Linked DNA regions of Homo sapiens. The protein of the gene in region 1 binds, or shares a complex with, the protein of each later gene. Each region holds a gene or a part of one and is shown on either strand. Other genes may lie near its edges. The genes, in order: ARPC3 and ARPC2.

Region 1 (7,835 bases):
CTACCATAAACTCTAGGTTTTTTTTTTTTTTTTTGGAGATGGAGTCTCACTCTCTTGCCCAGGCTGGAGTGCAGTGGTGCAATCTCCACTCACTGCAAGCTCCGCCTCCCAGGTTCACGCCATTCCCCTTCCACAGCCTCCTGAGTAGCTGGCACTACAGGCGCTCGCCACCACGCCTGGCTAATTTTTTGTATTTTTTTAGTAGAGACGGAGGTTTCACTGTGTTAGCCAGGATGGTCTCGATTCTCCTGACCTTATGATCCGCCCGCCTTGGCCTCCCAAAGTGTTGGGATTACAGGCGTGAGCTACCGCGTCTGGCCGTTTTTTTTTTTTGAGACGAAGTTTCACTCGTTGCCCAGGCTGGAGTGTAATGGCGCGATCTCAGCCTACCGCAACCTTCGGCTCACCGTAACCTCTGCCTCCCAGGTTTAAGCGATTCTCCTGCCTCAGCCTCCCGAGTAGCTGGGATTACAGGCATGCGCCACCACGCCCAGCTGAGTTTTTTTTTTTTTTTTTTTTTTTTTTGAGATGGAGTTTCGCTCTTGTTGCCCAAGCTGGAGTGCAATGGTGCGATCTCGGCTCACTGCAACCTCTGCCTCTCAGGTTCAAGCGATTCTTCTGTGTCAGCCTCCCGAATAGCTGGGATTACGGGCGCGTGCCACCATGCCCGGCTAATTTTTGTATTTTTAGTAGAGACATTGTTTCATCATATTGGTCAGGCTGGTCTCAAACTCCTGACCTCAGGTGAGCCGCCTGCCTGGGCCTCCCAAATTGCTGGGATTACAGGCGTGAGCCATCGCACCCGGCCCGGCTGGTTTTTGTATTTTTAGTAGAGACCAGGTTTCTCCGTGTTAGTCAGGCTAGTCTCAAACTCCCGACCTCAGGTGATCTGCCCGCCTGGGCCTCCCAAAGTGCTGGGATTACAGGCGTGATCCACTGCGCCTGGCCATATTAGTATATTTTATTTCATACATATACACAGAGAGAAAAAAAAGAAAAAGAGAAAAGAAAGCACTGATATATGCTCTAACATGGATGAATTAGAAAACATTAAGTCAAAGAAGCTAGACATAAAAGGCCACATGTTGTATAAAAAATTCAATTTACATGAATTATCCAGAATAAGCAAATCCATAGAGACAGAAAGTAGATTAATACTGGGAGGAGGGGTGGGAGGGACAGGGGGCTTGGGGAGGAATGTGGGGTGGGGTGGCTGCTAAAGAGTGCAGGTTCACTACACCGGGGTGATGAAAATGCTCTGGATTTACTGGGGATGGTTGTAAAACTTCATGTATATACTAAAAAAAGTGAATTGTACACTTTAAAAGGGCATTATGGAATGTGAATTTTATCTCAAAACAAATTGTAAGTGAATGTCAAAGACTGGCAATAAAGTTTTTCTGACATGGAATGTTAGAAATTTCTTTATTATTACTTATTCTTATTAAGCGCCAGCTTTAATGCTGCAGAAAATTTCAAATCACCCTTGATAACCCACTTTCTTTTCTCCCACCCAAATTCTTGATCAAGAGTTTTTCAAGTAAAGACATGCTCTTCTCTCTTCTGTATAAAACTTTACGAAATAAAGGCAAAAGATTGTGTACATCTTGCTGGAAAATGCTGCCCAGGGCTCTGGAGACGGTGGCTGCCCGGGCTCCCTTCACTGTCCAGGTCCTGAAAGACTCTTGTTCATGAACTGTCTCTTCACAAAGCAAGTCCACCACTAACAAGAGAGAACAACACAGAATGAACAGCGGGGTCAAATTACAATAGAATTTGCATTTATTTAATAATAAAATTTCACATTAGTCTGGAATCTCTTATAAACTTTTTTTTTTTTTTTTTGAGACGGAGTCTCGCTCTGTCGCCCAGGCTGGAGTGCTGGAGTGCAGTGGTGTGATCTTGGCTCACTGCAAGCTCCGCCTCCTGGGTTCATGCCATTCTCCTGCCTTAGCCTCCCCAGTAGCTGGGACTACAGGCGCCTGCCACCACGCCTGGCTAATTTTTTGTATTTTTTAGTAGAGACGGGGTTTCACCATGTTAGCCAGGATGGTCTCAATCTCCTGACCTCATGATCCGCCTGCTTTGGCCTCCCAAAGTGCTGGGATTAGAGGCGTGAGCCACCGCGCCTGGCCATAAACCCTTTTTAGACAAAGTCTCACTCTGTCATTCAGGCTGGAGTGTAATGGCATGATCTTGGCTCACTGCAACCTCCACTTCCTGGGTTCAAGCGACTCTCTTGTCTCAGCCTCCTGAGTAGCTGAGATGACAGGTGCACACCATCATGCCTGGCTAATTTTTTGTATTTTCAGTAGAGATGGGGGTTTCACCATGTTGGCCAGGCTGGTCTCGAACTCCTGACCGCAAGTGATCCACTCGCCTCGGCCTCCCAAAGTGGTGGGATTACAGGCGTGAGCCACTGCGCCCGGCCTGCAATTCATTATTTAGTGTGATTCAGTGAACTCATATTACATACTAGACATATACTGGAAGTTAAGCAACATTGCAATGCAGAAATTAAAAATATTCTTGCAATGGAAGACCTTAGTGTGTTCAATGGTGGCTATGGGATAAAAGGTGATTTACCAATTAAGCAGGCAAGAAGAGGGTCTTACCTTGCTGGGTTTATCATTCTGAGGGTCGAAAACTTTCTCACAAAGTCTCAGTCCAGTCTCTTGCCTTAGCTGTTGTAAATAGGCTCTCATCACTTCTAAAACAGAACAATTTAAAAAAAACTGTATTTGCAAATACATCCCAAATGTACTGGTTGCAGCTCTGGATGCTCACTGTGGTAATACATTTTTATACATTTGAACAGGATACAAAATAGAAATGACAGTCCAGATAGTTTTATAACTATATTTGTTTTTGTTCAAAAGATTTTCTGCATGTCATCCTTGTTGCCAAGAATCGTTTGTGAGAGTGACTAATAAGATAATGTACTTCCTATGATTTCACTCTCAATCTGTACATGAATCAAGGCAAGAAAAAGAGGGGTGGTAGGAAGTCAAATGGAGAAAATCTTCTTGTGTCACAGAGTGAGGATAGAGACCTGTTCTTACCATCTTCCTGTTTGTTTGCAGGTTTGGCATAAATTGCGTTAAGTGGAAAACCAGGCTCTCCAGGAATGGGAAAATTAGTGATTCCCAGCGTATACATTTCTTTCTCACCTTGGCTTTTGGAATTGCACTGGAAAAAAAAATATATATATATATATACACACACACACACACACACACACACACACACACACACACACATATTTTACAGGGAAAAGAAGAATTCTATCCTTGGACCCCAGGTTAAGAACCCTTGAGTCAAGGGCTTAAAAGGAATTCCTCTGTCAAGATTTCTGTCTTGAGAAAATATATTCAAAGCCTTAAAACACCACTACTTTTATCTTTGTGTCAGTCAATTATACTACAAGTTCAGGTAACTAAATTCAAATTTTTCTCTTAAGTCCATGCTGTAAGTCAGAGGAAATATTTTCTACTTGTCTTTAAAGTCTCAACAAATCCCAGATGACTGGGAGGGTAAATGCCTCTCAGCAATTTGTTTTCCTGATATACAATCATCCAAGTTTAATTACCTTTTGCAGTTTCTTCAGACATTCAGAAATGTAGAGAGTTATATATATCAAGGTCCTATCAGCTTCATTCTACAGGGAGAAAAAGAAGACTTAAAAACAGTTATCAAAACATAACAATGATGTGCAATGTATGCATTCCATCTTTGTCTTCTGATTATCTGCTGAATGCAGTGGTAGGACAGCCACTATCACATCAAAACTCCCATTCTCCAAATGCACAGTCTCCTCAGTCTCCTTTTCCGTCTGCCCCTGGGAGGAAGGCACAAGCCCCACTCTGAGATGTGCAGCTGCTTTTTTTTTTTGAGACGGAGTCTTGCTCTGTTGCCCAGGCTGGAGTGCAGTGGCACAATCTCAGCTCACTGCAACCTCCACCTCCCAGGTTCAAGCAATTCTCCTGCCTCAGCCTCCCGAGTAGCTGGGATTACAGGTGCCCGCCACCACGCCTGGCTAATTTTTCTATTTTTAGTAGAGACGGGGTTTCACCATGTTGGCCAGGTTGGTCTCGAACTCCTGACCTCAAGTGATCTGTCCACCTCAGCCTCCCAAAGTGCTGGGATTACAGGCATGAGCCACCACGCTCGGCTGAGTGGCTGCTCTCTCTTGTTTTTCTCGGCTCCCCTTGCCCCAGGGTTCCCAAGGATCTGTGTCAACAGCCCCTCACTGTATAGGAAGAAGTAACAAAGCTGCCTGGAAAGCCTGAACTGCTCCATATGGTTGGCTAATTTTTAAAAACCCTTCCCTTCAGGGTCTCTGCCGAGAACAGAAATAGTCATTACTCTAAAGGAGGAAGCAACTATTTCACATTTGACTTGCTCCCAAAGAACTCCATAATCTCAATGTCTTGACCTAACCAAAAAGAAAATGTGGAGAAGACAAATGAATGTTGATCAAATGTGGTATGGACTTTGGGTCAAATTTTACACAAATTTAGGCCAGGTGCAGTGGCTTATGCCTGTAATCCCAGCACTTTGGGAGGTTGAGGTGGGTGGATTGCTTGAGCCCAGGAGTTTGAGACCAGCCTGGGCAACATGGCGAAACACCGTCTCTACTAAAAATACAAAAATTAGCCAGTCATGGTGGCGTGCGCCTGTAATCCCAGCTGCTAGGGAGGCTAAGGCCACAGAATCGCTTGAAGCCAGGAGGCAGAGGTTGTAATGAGTCAAGACTGTACCACTGCACTGCAGCCTGGGCAACAGAGCAAGACTCTGTCTCGAATTAAAAAAAAAAAAAAAAAGGCCGGGTGCGGTGGCCCACACCTGTAATCCCAACACTTTGGAAGTCCAAGGTGGGTGTATCACGAGCTCAGGAGATCGAGACCATCCTGGCCAACGTGGTGAAACCCTGTCCCTACCAAAAAATACAAAAATTAGCTTGGCGTGGTGGCGCGTGCCTGTAATCCCAGCTACTTGGGAGGCTGAGGCAGGAGAACCACTTGAACCCGGGAGTCGAGGGTTGCACTGAGCCGAGATCACGCCATTGCACTCCAGCCTGGTGACAGAGCGGGACTCTGTCTCAAAACAAAAAAACAACAAAAAAATTACCCCCAAACCACACCATTTTCCTATATATTTTTTTTTTTTTGAGTGTTTCACTTTTGCTGCCCAGGCTGGAGTGCAATGGCGTGATATTGGCTCACCGCAACCTCTGCCTCCTGGGTTCAAGTGATTCTCCTGCCTCAGCCTCCCAAGTAGCTGGGATTACAGGCACGCACCACCACGCCCAGTTAATTTTGTATTTTTAGTAGAGACGGGGTTTCCCCATGTTGGTCAGGCTGGTCTCAAGCTCCCGACCTCAGGTGATCCGCCCGCCTTGGCCTCCCAAATTACGGGCAGAGGCACTGCGCCCAGCCACATTTCCCTATTTTTAAGACAATATAGTATCTGGGAACAAATGAAATGTGGCAGAGTTTTTTGTTTTTTTTTTGAGACAGTCTTGCTCTGTCGCCCAGGCTGGGTGCAGTGGTGTGATCTCGGCTCACTGCAACCATCACCTCCTGGGTTCAAGCAATTCTTGTGCTTCAGCCTCCCGAGTAGCTGGGATTACAGGCATGCACTACTACACCTGGCTAATTTTTGTATTTTTGGTAGAGATGGGGTTTCGCTTTGTTGGCCAGGCTGGTCTCAAACTCCTGGCATCATGTGATCCACCCGCCTCAGCCTCCCAAGTGTTGGGATTACAGGCGTGAGCCACCATGCACTAATTTTTCTATTTTTTGTAGAGACGGGGGTTCGCCATGTTGCCCAGGCTGGTCTCGAACTCCTGAACTCAAGCAATGTGCCCAGAGAATTGTAACATTTATAACTGTTACAAACTTAACCCACACATGAGATATAGAAAACATTCTATTACCATCACAGAATGTTTAGACTACAATTTGTACACCAAGAGTCTACAAATAAATAATTCACAACCTGTTTGATTCCAGAAGTTCAGAGTTTGGCAAGGAGGGGCTGAAATTCCATTTTAGGGCCGGGAGCGGTGGCTCACGCCTGTAATCCCAGCACACTGAGAGGCTGAGGTGAGCGGATCATGAGGTCAGGAGATCGAGACACCATCCTGCCTAACATTGTGAAACCCCGTCTCTACTAAAAATACAAAAAATTAGCCAGGTGTGGTGGTGCATGCCTGTAGTTCCAGCTACCTGGGAGGCTGAGGCAGGAGGACTGTCTGAGCCCAGGAGGTTGACGGTATAGTGAGCTGTGATTGTGCCACTGCACTCTAGCCTGGGCGACGGAGCAAGACCCTGTCTCAAAACAAAACAAAAGGCTGGCACATAGTAGGTGCTGCTTAACTAATGTTGAATAAATAAAGATACTTCTAGCAAGGGGTTGGCAAACTTTCTCTGTAAAAGGCAGGCAGTATTTTTAGGTTTTGTGGGCCATACAGTCTTTGTCACAACTACTCAATTCTGCTGTTTTGGTGTGAAAGTAACTATAGATAATATAGAAACAAATGGTTGTGGCTGTGTTCCAATAAAGGTTTATTCATAAAAAGGGGCAGTGGGCCAAATGTGGCCCTCAGGTTAGAGTTTGCCAACCCCTGGTATAGAATTTGGAGGAAAAAAAAAGAAACTAATATTTATACAAAAGCTAACATTAAGCACTGCTCTCGAATTTAAAAATTACATGCTGATTTCATTTTATTTTCTCCTCACAGCAATCTGGATAGCAAGGTTGGTATTATCCCTATGAGAAAACTAAGTTAAATATTAAAAGCTCCGTAATTTACCTTAATTTCATAGTTTTTGAAGAAGACATTGGCCTTGAAGTAATAGATGGCTTCATCCACAATATCTGTATCTTTTGCTAAGCAGGACACAAGGGAAGGAGCACAGAGAACATTAGCCAAATACAAAACATAACAACTATCAAAGCCATAAAGGGAAAACACATACAACTGTCAACAGTTGTGGAGTTGAATAAAATAAAATGATCCTATTGAAATACAAAGTTTTTAGAAAATATTTATTTGTTTTTTTTTTGAGACAGAGTCTCGCTCTGTCACCCAGGCTGGAGTGCAGTGGCGTGATCTTGGCTCACTGCAAGCTCTGCCTCCCGGGTTCACGCCATTCTCCTGCCTCAGCCTCCTGAGTAGCTGGGGCTACAGGCACCTGCCACCACACCCCGCTAATTTTTTGTATTTTTAGTAGAGATGGGGTTTCACCATGTTAGCCAGGATGGTCTTGATCTCCTGACCGCGTGATCCGCCCATCTCGGCCTCCCAAAGTGCTGGGATTACAGGCATGAGCCACCGTGCCCAGCCTTTGTTTTTTTTTTTGAGACAGAGTTTCACTCTGTCGCCCAGGCTGGAGTGCAGTGGCGCGATCTTGGCTCACTGCAAGCTCCGCCTCCCGGGTTCACGGCATTCTCCTGCCTCAGCCTCCCAAGTAGCTGGGGCTATAGGCACCTGCCACCATGCTCAGCTATATTTTTTGTATTTTTAGTAAAGACGGGGTTTCACCGTGTTAGCCAGGATGGTCTTGATCTCCTGACCTCGTGATCCGCCCATCTCGGCCTCCCAACGTGCTGGGATCACAGGCATAAGCCACCGTGCCCGGCCAAATTTTTTTTTTTTGAGACGGAGTCTTGCTCCGTCGCCCAGACTGGAGTGAAATGGCATGATCTCGGCTCACTCTGCCTCCCGGGTTCAAGCGATTCTCCTGCCTCAGCCTCCCAAGTAGCTGGGATTATACGCATGTACCACCAGGCCTGGCTAATTTTTGTATTTTTAGTAGAAATGGGGTTTC
Region 2 (8,480 bases), on another chromosome or scaffold:
TCATTAAATCTAAACTATACACTTTTTTCTTTTTTCTTTCTCTCTGTCACCCAGGCTGGAGTGCAGTGGTGTGATCTCGGCTCACTGCAACCTCTGCTTCCCAGGCTCAAACAATTCTCGTGCCTCAGCTTCCCAGGTAGCTGGGACCACAGGCGTGTGCCACCACACCCGGCTAATTTTTGTATTTTCAGTAGAAACAGGGTTTCCAGCTGGGCACGGTGGCTCACGCCTGTAATCCCAGCACTTTGGGAGGCCGAGGCAAGTGGATCACGATGTCAGGAGATCGAGACCATCCTGGCTAACACAGTGAAACCCCATCTCTACAAAAAATACAAAAACTTAGCTGGGCGTGGTGGTGGGTGCCTGTAGTCCCAGCTACCCTGAAGGCTGAGGCAGGAGAATGGCGTGAACCTGGGAGGCGGAGCTTGCAATAGGCCAAGATCACGCGACTGCACTCCAGCCTGGGCGACAGAACAAGACTCCGTCTCAAAAAAAATTAAAAAAAAAAAAAAGAAACAGGGTTTCCATGTTGGCCAGGCTGATCTCAACTCCTGGCCTCAAGCAATCCACTCACTTCAGCCTCCCAAAGTGCTGGGATTACAGGCGTGTGCCACTGCGCCCAGCCAGCTATACCATTTTTTTCAAGTTTTTGTCTTTGAAGCTGGGATGCATCTTACAATTCATAGCATGTCACACTTTAATTGGCAGCATGTTTCTCTTGTGGTACATAAAATTATGGCAGACTTACAGTCATAAGCACCTTAGATTCTTTGAAGTATAGTTGTCTTCTGTTGTGGTGTTCATTTACTTTCAGGCCAGGGCACATTGACACAGAAATTCCACACTTCCTTAGGAGGCATTCCTTTTCATTTCAACGAAAACTTCAGACAACTGACGGGGTTTTGCAGATAGTGAGTAGAGGAGGTGCAGCAGGTAAAAACGATTCCAGAAAACCAGGGCAAGAGGGGCATGCAGGCCTGCTGTAGTGCAAAGGACTTTGTGATGAGCACACAGGTCTTTTTTTGAGATGGAGTCTTGCTCTGTCACTCAGGCTGGAGTGCAGTGGCACCGTCTTGGCTCACTGCAACCTCCACCCCCCGGGTTTAAGCGATTCTCCTGCCTCAGCCTCCTAAGTAGCTGAGATTACAGGCACACGCCATCACATGTGGCTAATTTTTATATTTTTAGTAGAGATGGGGTTTCACCATGTTGGCCAGGCTGGTCTCAAAACTCCTGATCTCAGATGATCAGCCTGCGTCAGCCTCCCAAAGTGCTGGGATTACAGGCGTGAGCCATCGCGCCCAGCCTCACACAGGTCTTTAGGTGGCTGGTGTCACAGGGTGGACTTCAGTCAGGCCCATTCAGAGCAGCTCCTCCTGCCTGGCCTATCATGAGGGTTCAGGTCCTTACACCTTATTGTCTGTTTTCACAGTGAGAATATGGGAAATTCTCTGGCATCTGTTTTCTGGGAAGGTTTACTCTATTTCAGCACCAAGGACCTAAGACAGGCAGCTGCATTTCCTAATCCTGATTCCTTAAAGTAAACTGTTACAGCCAGTTAGTGTGATCCTGGAGTGTGTCCAGCTGCAGAGGCAAGAGCTAGTACCTGTGTGGCAGACCGGAAATAGATTTCAAAATGCACAGCTGCAGAATTCAGGAGTAGAATGAAGGCCTAGGGTCAAGCCCTGTTTTTCATCGTGGGCTCCTCCATTCACGCTCGTTGACACCTTTCCTGGCCATGCTGTTTAACTTCCATGTCAAGAAAAAACCCTGACAAAGCCTGGTAATACTGACACAAGTGGAGTGTACTTAAGCAGAGAGGGAGTGATGTTCACTAGGCTGTTGTTCTTCCCCACCCTTTGGCATTTGTGTCGTGTCCTGACGCCTTGTTTGTGTCTTCCGCCTTCAGTGCTGTTCCCTCGTCACACCAATGCCAGTGCTCGAGACAACACCATCAACCTGATCCACACGTTCCGGGACTACCTGCACTACCACATCAAGTGCTCTAAGGTGAGGGGGGTGCCAGCATCTCAGCCTCTATGCTCTGGGTCTTTTCCTCCACCAGAACTCCTGACAGAAAGTCATTCCATTAGTCTACGCTGTGGATATTGACTCTTAGGTAAATAATTCTAGAGGCTTCAAGAAACCATGGTCTTTCTTCATCAAGCCACTGTCCCCCATCCCTCCCTATAGCAGAGATGAATATTTGTTTCCAGAATTGCTCACCTTCCTGCTTCCCTGCAGGGCCTGGGTCAATCCCAGGGTGTATGTTCCCAACCGCCCTTGATGACCTCTCTGATGAAAGACAGCAAAGCTGTCTTTCTAGACCATGACTGTGCTTTAGTACCTGTTATGTTTGTTCCCAGGCCTATATTCACACACGTATGCGGGCGAAAACGTCTGACTTCCTCAAGGTGCTGAACCGCGCACGCCCAGATGCCGAGAAAAAAGAAATGAAAACAATCACGTAAGTTAGGCAGCACCCCAGCGACCACCTTCCTCTCCTGAGTCACCGAGAAGGAAGCAGTGGGCGCTGGTGGCCTGGTCCTCCATGTATCTGGGCACTGGCTACATATGAGGTCAGCAGGGCTAAGTAGATAAACCAAAGGTGGGATTCCATGTTCTCACTGCCATATAGGCCAGGATGGGTTTCCTTGTTTCCGTATCTTTGTGAGCTATGAGAATGGCAGCTAGGAAATAAACAAAGTTTACCAAGAGACTGTTCTTTTTGGGCCTGAGTTATGAGGTCAGTCTTGTGCTTTTGGTGGTCTTTCTGGAGAGATGGAGTAAGTTGCTTAGGGACCTTTAATTGGGTAAATAGGCCTGAAACCACCCCACTAAGTGTTCTTTTTCCTGGTCCACTCTCAGCAGGAAGTTTGCATGCAGAGGAAGGTTCTCTTTATCAGGGATAGAATTGAGGAGAGCCGTGACGGGCGCTGTGGCTCACGCCTGTAATCCCAGCACTTTGGGAGGCTGAGATGGGTGGATCACAGGGTCAGGAGTTCAGGACCAGCCTGGCCAAGACGGTGAAACCCCATCTTTACTAAAAATACAAAAAAAATTAGCCGGTCGTGGTGGCAGGTGCCTGTAGTCCCGGCTACTCGGGAGGCTGAGGCAGAGAATTGCTTGAGCCCAGGAGGCAGAGGTCGCAGTGAGCCAAGATTGTGCCACTGCACTCCAGCCTGAGCGACAGAGTAAGACTTAGTCTCAAAAAAAAAAAAAAAAATTTGAGGAGAGCCCTAAATAGGGGTGTGGCTCTGCATGCAGGAAAGGCGAGCATGGCCTAGAGCCTAGAGAGTTCCATCTTTGTGAAAGGTGCCAGACCTTGGTTCTTCTGATGAAATTCAGGCAGTCCTGTCCTTAAGATAAGGTAATAGTGTTCATTTGCTGGTTTTTGTTTGTTTGTTTGTTTTTTGGTGGGGGTGTTGGGGGAGACAGAGTCTCACTCTGTCGCCCAGGCTGGAGTGCAGTGGCGCGATCTCAGCTCACTGCAGCCTCTGCCTCCCAACTAGCTGGGACTGCAGGTGCACACCACCACGCCCGGCTAATTTTTTGTATTTTAGTAGAGATGGGGTTTCACCATGTTGCCCAGGCTGGTCTAGAACTCGTGAGCTCAGGCAGTCCACCCACCTCGGCCTCCCATCTGCTGTCTTTTGTACCAGTTGAACTAAAAGTCTTGAGGTCATAAGCCTCCCTCACAGCCAGTGTTATTTGCCAGCACCCCAGTACTGTTGTTGTTTTGTTTTGTTGTTTTGTTTTTGTTTTTTGTTTTTTGATACAGAGTTTCGCTCTTGAAGCACAGGCTGGAGTGCAGAGGCACAATCTTAGTTCACTACGACCTCTGCCTCCTGGGTTCAAGCAATTCTCTTGCCTCAGCCTCCCAAGTAGCTGGGACTACAGGCGTGCGCCACTAAGCCCCACTAATTTATTTGTATTTTTAATAGAGACAGGGTTTCACCATATTGGCCAGGCTGGTCTTGAACTGCTGACCTCGTGATCCACCTACCTCAGCTTCCCAAAGTGTTGGGATTAAGGAGTGAGCCACCGCGCCCAGCCCAGTACTCTGTGATCCCCAGCCAGGCTCAACCTCCTGGGCTCAAGCAATCCTCCCATCTCAGCCCCCCAAGTAGCTGGGACCACAGGCATGCACCATCACAGCTGGCTAATTTTTGTATTTTTGTAGAGACGGGATTTCACCATGTTGTCCAGGCTGGTCTCGAACTCCTGGACTCAAGTGATCCTCCCACCTCAGCCTCCCAAAGTGTTGGGATAACAGACATGAGCCACCACACCTGGCCCAGCACTCAGTACTCTTGAGGCAAAGTTTTAGTGGGTGTGGTACGCCTAGGGCTTTACACTCTCTCTCTTGCATTTGAGGGCTCTTCTACCAAGTTAGTTTCTGCTGTCATTTGAAAGGATGAGAAAGAGATCAAGGACTTGAGCAGTAGGTGAGGGTTTTCAGACATTGTCAAAAAGCAGTTTAAGGCCAGGTGCGGTGGCTCACGCTTGTAATCCCAGCACTTTGGGAGGCCGAGGCAGGCGGATCACCTGAGGTCAGGAGTTGGAGACCTCCAGCCTGACCAACATGGAGAAACCCCATCTCTACTAAAAATACAGAATTAGCTAGGCATGGTAGTGCATGCCTGTAATCCCAGCTACTCTGGAGGCTGAGGCAGGAGAATCAGTTGAACCCGGGAGGCAGAGGTTGCGGTGAGCTAAGATCGCACCATTGCACTCCAGCCTGAGCAACAAGAGCGAAACTCCATCTCAAAAAAAAAAGCACTTTTTAAGTCACCTCGACTTCTTTAGGCAAAGGCCTGTCTCTGTAGCAGCTCAGAGAGGAGTGTCCAAATGCCATGCAATGAAATGGCAGCATCGTTTCTTTTCTGCAGCTTCTTGGGCAGATCTTTAAATGGGCAAAGTGACCAACAAGGTGGGTGGGCAGGTGAGAGGATGTGCTTGCTGCCTCTCCAGAACCTAGTCTCCATCCTGGTGTCTACATTTTCCCCTTTCCCTGCTTGCTCTACACAGGAGTACTTTTCTCACCGGGTACTTGTTTGGTGACCTGGAGTGTGAGGCAGTGAATTTCATGCTGCTTTCAGGGCCCAGTAGACAGGCAGTTCAGTAGAGGCCAAGAGGTAAACTGGCAGCCAGGTACAGTGAGAGGGAAGCCTGACCTGGCAGCCTGTGATAACCGGACTGGAAGGCTGGGCATCATAATAGTCTCAGGGCTGCCAGCATCACCTTTGGCACTGGTAGCTGCTTGTGCATCCAGGAGGAAGGCCTGTTAGGCAGCTGCTGCCCGATTCCACAGCCAGCAGGCAGTCGTGGGAGTCCCTGCCCAGTGAGTGCAGTTGTGTAGCGGGCAGGGATAGCTCCCTGTCCTGGTGAGAGACCCAGGAAGGGATGAATCCTTAAAATGAACAGACTGTTCATAAGCCTCCTCTCTGGGACTTAGAAAGAGCAACTTTGCCTTCTTCTGTGCTGCAGCTTCTCTTTGGCAGAGTTGGGCCCCAGAAAGGAGAAGCAGGAGACAAACAGCTGCATCCACCCTGAAAACCAGATTATGTTACTAATGGTGGGTAGGAGTTAAGTGACTCAGCTGTGGGCAGAAGCCAGGAACCCTCGATGGGCCGCCCAGAATTGAACACTCAGGAGCTTTTCATTTGGAGAGAAGGATAATAAGGTGTAGCTTCATTTTGGAATAAGCGATACATCCAAGACAGGGAAAATCTAGAGCCCATGTTTTTGCCCTGATTTCCCATAGTTCTCAGCTCTAGCTTCCAGGCTGCTTTCCCAGATACTGTTAGGTACCAGTTAGAGGCTCTGTCCTTGAGAACCACCTAGCCCATCTGGAGAAATACTGGGTGGAACAGGACACCACAATTCAGGAGCCTCGAACCAGGCAGGTGTTGTATAAGCCAGAGGAGGAGTCACCACGTGATAGCAGAAATACCTTTAGCCTTGGAAGTTCTGAGGATTGCTCTGAACCAGCCACCTGCCTTCATGGTGAGAGATAAAGGAACTGCTATCTGGGAGCCCTGAGAGGTATACACTGTGTAGGAGGAGCTGACAAATGAGGTAGTACTAAGAAGACGGTTTGAGCCTAGTCGGAAATTCAGGTACGTCTAGGCCATCCAGAAATTGTGAACAAGTGATTCTTCTATCTAACTTGGTACGTTGAATGTCCTTGTGGGCTTAACACTGATATTCCCGGGCATCCAAAGTATCCAATAGGAAGGAAGAGCTCGTGAAACCATTCTGTGAAAGCCAGATTTTAGCCGATGTCCTGTGGTTCCAGTGCCTCTGCTTAAGGAATCTAGCCCTTTCCACCTCTCATTTGGTGTTTCTTTGGGATCCCATCTAGTCTAGGAGTGTGGGGTGGGAGGAAAGGGCAGCCAGAAACTGACCTTCGCACTTATCTCTCCTTTTGAAGGGGGAAGACGTTTTCATCCCGCTAATCTTGGGAATAAGAGGAGGAAGCGGCTGGCAACTGAAGGCTGGAACACTTGCTACTGGATAATCGTAGCTTTTAATGTTGCGCCTCTTCAGGTTCTTAAGGGATTCTCCGTTTTGGTTCCATTTTGTACACGTTTGGAAAATAATCTGCAGAAACGAGCTGTGCTTGCAAAGACTTCATAGTTCCCAAGAATTAAAAAAAAAAAAAAAAGAATTCCACTTGATCAACTTAATTCCTTTTCTTTATCTTCCCTCCCTCACTTCCCTTTTCTCCCACCCTCTTTTCCAAGCTGTTTCGCTTTGCAATATATTACTGGTAATGAGTTGCAGGATAATGCAGTCATAACTTGTTTTCTCCTAAGTATTTGAGTTCAAAACTCCTGTATCTAAAGAAATACGGTTGGGGTCATTAATAAAGAAAATCTTTCTATCTTACATGAGAATTTGCTGGGTTTCTGGACTGCGAGTCCAAAGTGAGAAGAGAAGGAAGGAAGAAGGATAGACCTATACTACCCTTGAACCTGCAAACCTAAGCTGGGAAGCCCTAGTTTCAGGAGCCCATCAGGTTTAGATCCTCACCTTCCCTAGAGGAGAGAATGGCTGGCCAGTGAGCTATATTTAAACTTTTTTTTTTTCCCCCTGAGAGACAGGGTCATTACCTCCTGGGCTCGGGTGATCATCCCACCTCAGCCTCCCAAATAGCTGGGATTACAGGCGCATACCACTATGCCTGGCTAATTTTTTTTATTTTTAGTAGAGATGAGGTTTCGCCATCTTGCCCAGGCTGGTCTCAAACTCCTGGACTCAGGCAGTTTGCTTGCTTCAGCCTCTCAAAGTGCTGGGATTATAGGCATGAGCTATGGAACCCAGCGAGCTATTAATACAAACTTACATGCTTCCTTATAAAGCTTGGTCCCTGAGACTCTGTGGCTGCTCCTGAAGCTCCCTGGTCAATGACAGAGAAATTAAAGGGTTTTCTGGTTTATCTTTTTATTGTGAATAATGTGTGGAATTTCCCAAAATGTGTTCCTTAGTGTGTGGTCCTGCAGGACATTGATGAGTATTCAGGTGTGGGTCTGATGCAGACTAATTGGCCACAGTTTGTCTTTCTCACATGGCAGCCCAAAAGACTGCTCTCAGGGAGAGCAGTTGTCAAAAACAGTACAGAGCCTAGTAGAGCAGCTGTCCCCCAGCAGGACTCTGGTCCCTGAAATGAAATTGCTTCAGAAAGTTTGCTTGGTGTAAGGAATTAAGAGGAGAATTTTAGGGGCACCTGCAACGGTCTGATGGTCATTCTAATGGTTTCTGCCTTCCATCTATGGCAGTGTTTCATACTGGCTTGGGACCCATTAATTGTGGTGTGACTATATCACAACAAGCATTTTTGTTTTCTAAACTTTTGATTTTGAGATAACTGTAGATTTAAATACGGTTGTAAGAAACAATACAGAGAGATCCTGTATACCTTCCACTTGGTTCCCCCACCATGCTAACATCTTGTATAATTGTTGTATAACATCACAGCCAAGAAAAAATCATTAGTATAGTCCACACACCTTCAGATTTGGCCGGATTTACGTGCACTGTATGAGATGTACATCTGTGCATTTTTATCATACGTGTAGCTTTGTGTGACGCCAGCATTTTTAAGCAATTGAATAGTATCAGAGTGCATTACATCTGTTAAGGGTAAGTGTTGATGTGGAAACGTATTTTAGTTACATATGCACATCATGACTGGATTGTAGAAATGTCTCTTGACTGTGAGTCACAGTGGAGAATTTTGAAAACCACAGGTCGTTCAGTCATCAGACTTGATTTTATTTCACTAAAATGGGCTGCTAGAGAGCTCAAGGTACTCTGATTTCTAATTGGCTGCTCAGGGTGCCCCTGACCACTTACTTCTGGTACTTGGAAAACCTAGATTAATTGGATATATTGACAGCAACATATGCATTCTCTACCCCATGAGTTATTTAAGGGGTTTTCAAGTGTAATTTTGACTAGAAGCAGTTTTTGCT

Evidence for each region.
Region 2: ARPC3 (region 1) and ARPC2 share a complex: the UniProt entries of both Homo sapiens proteins name them as parts of the arp2/3 complex.

Annotation. Positions count from the first base shown.
Region 1 is NC_000012.12:110,433,495-110,441,329, forward strand, and holds the end of ARPC3 (actin-related protein 2/3 complex subunit 3), read right to left. Parts: intron 6,895-7,835; coding exon 6,818-6,894; intron 3,659-6,817; coding exon 3,590-3,658; intron 3,190-3,589; coding exon 3,063-3,189; intron 2,711-3,062; coding exon 2,616-2,710; intron 1,724-2,615; coding exon 1,661-1,723; 3' UTR 1,329-1,660; downstream 1-1,328. UniProt on the Homo sapiens protein: Component of the Arp2/3 complex, a multiprotein complex that mediates actin polymerization upon stimulation by nucleation-promoting factor (NPF).
Region 2 is NC_000002.12:218,247,455-218,255,934, forward strand, and holds the end of ARPC2 (actin-related protein 2/3 complex subunit 2), read left to right. Parts: intron 1-1,909; coding exon 1,910-2,010; intron 2,011-2,366; coding exon 2,367-2,467; intron 2,468-6,436; coding exon 6,437-6,461; 3' UTR 6,462-6,894; downstream 6,895-8,480. UniProt on the Homo sapiens protein: Actin-binding component of the Arp2/3 complex, a multiprotein complex that mediates actin polymerization upon stimulation by nucleation-promoting factor (NPF).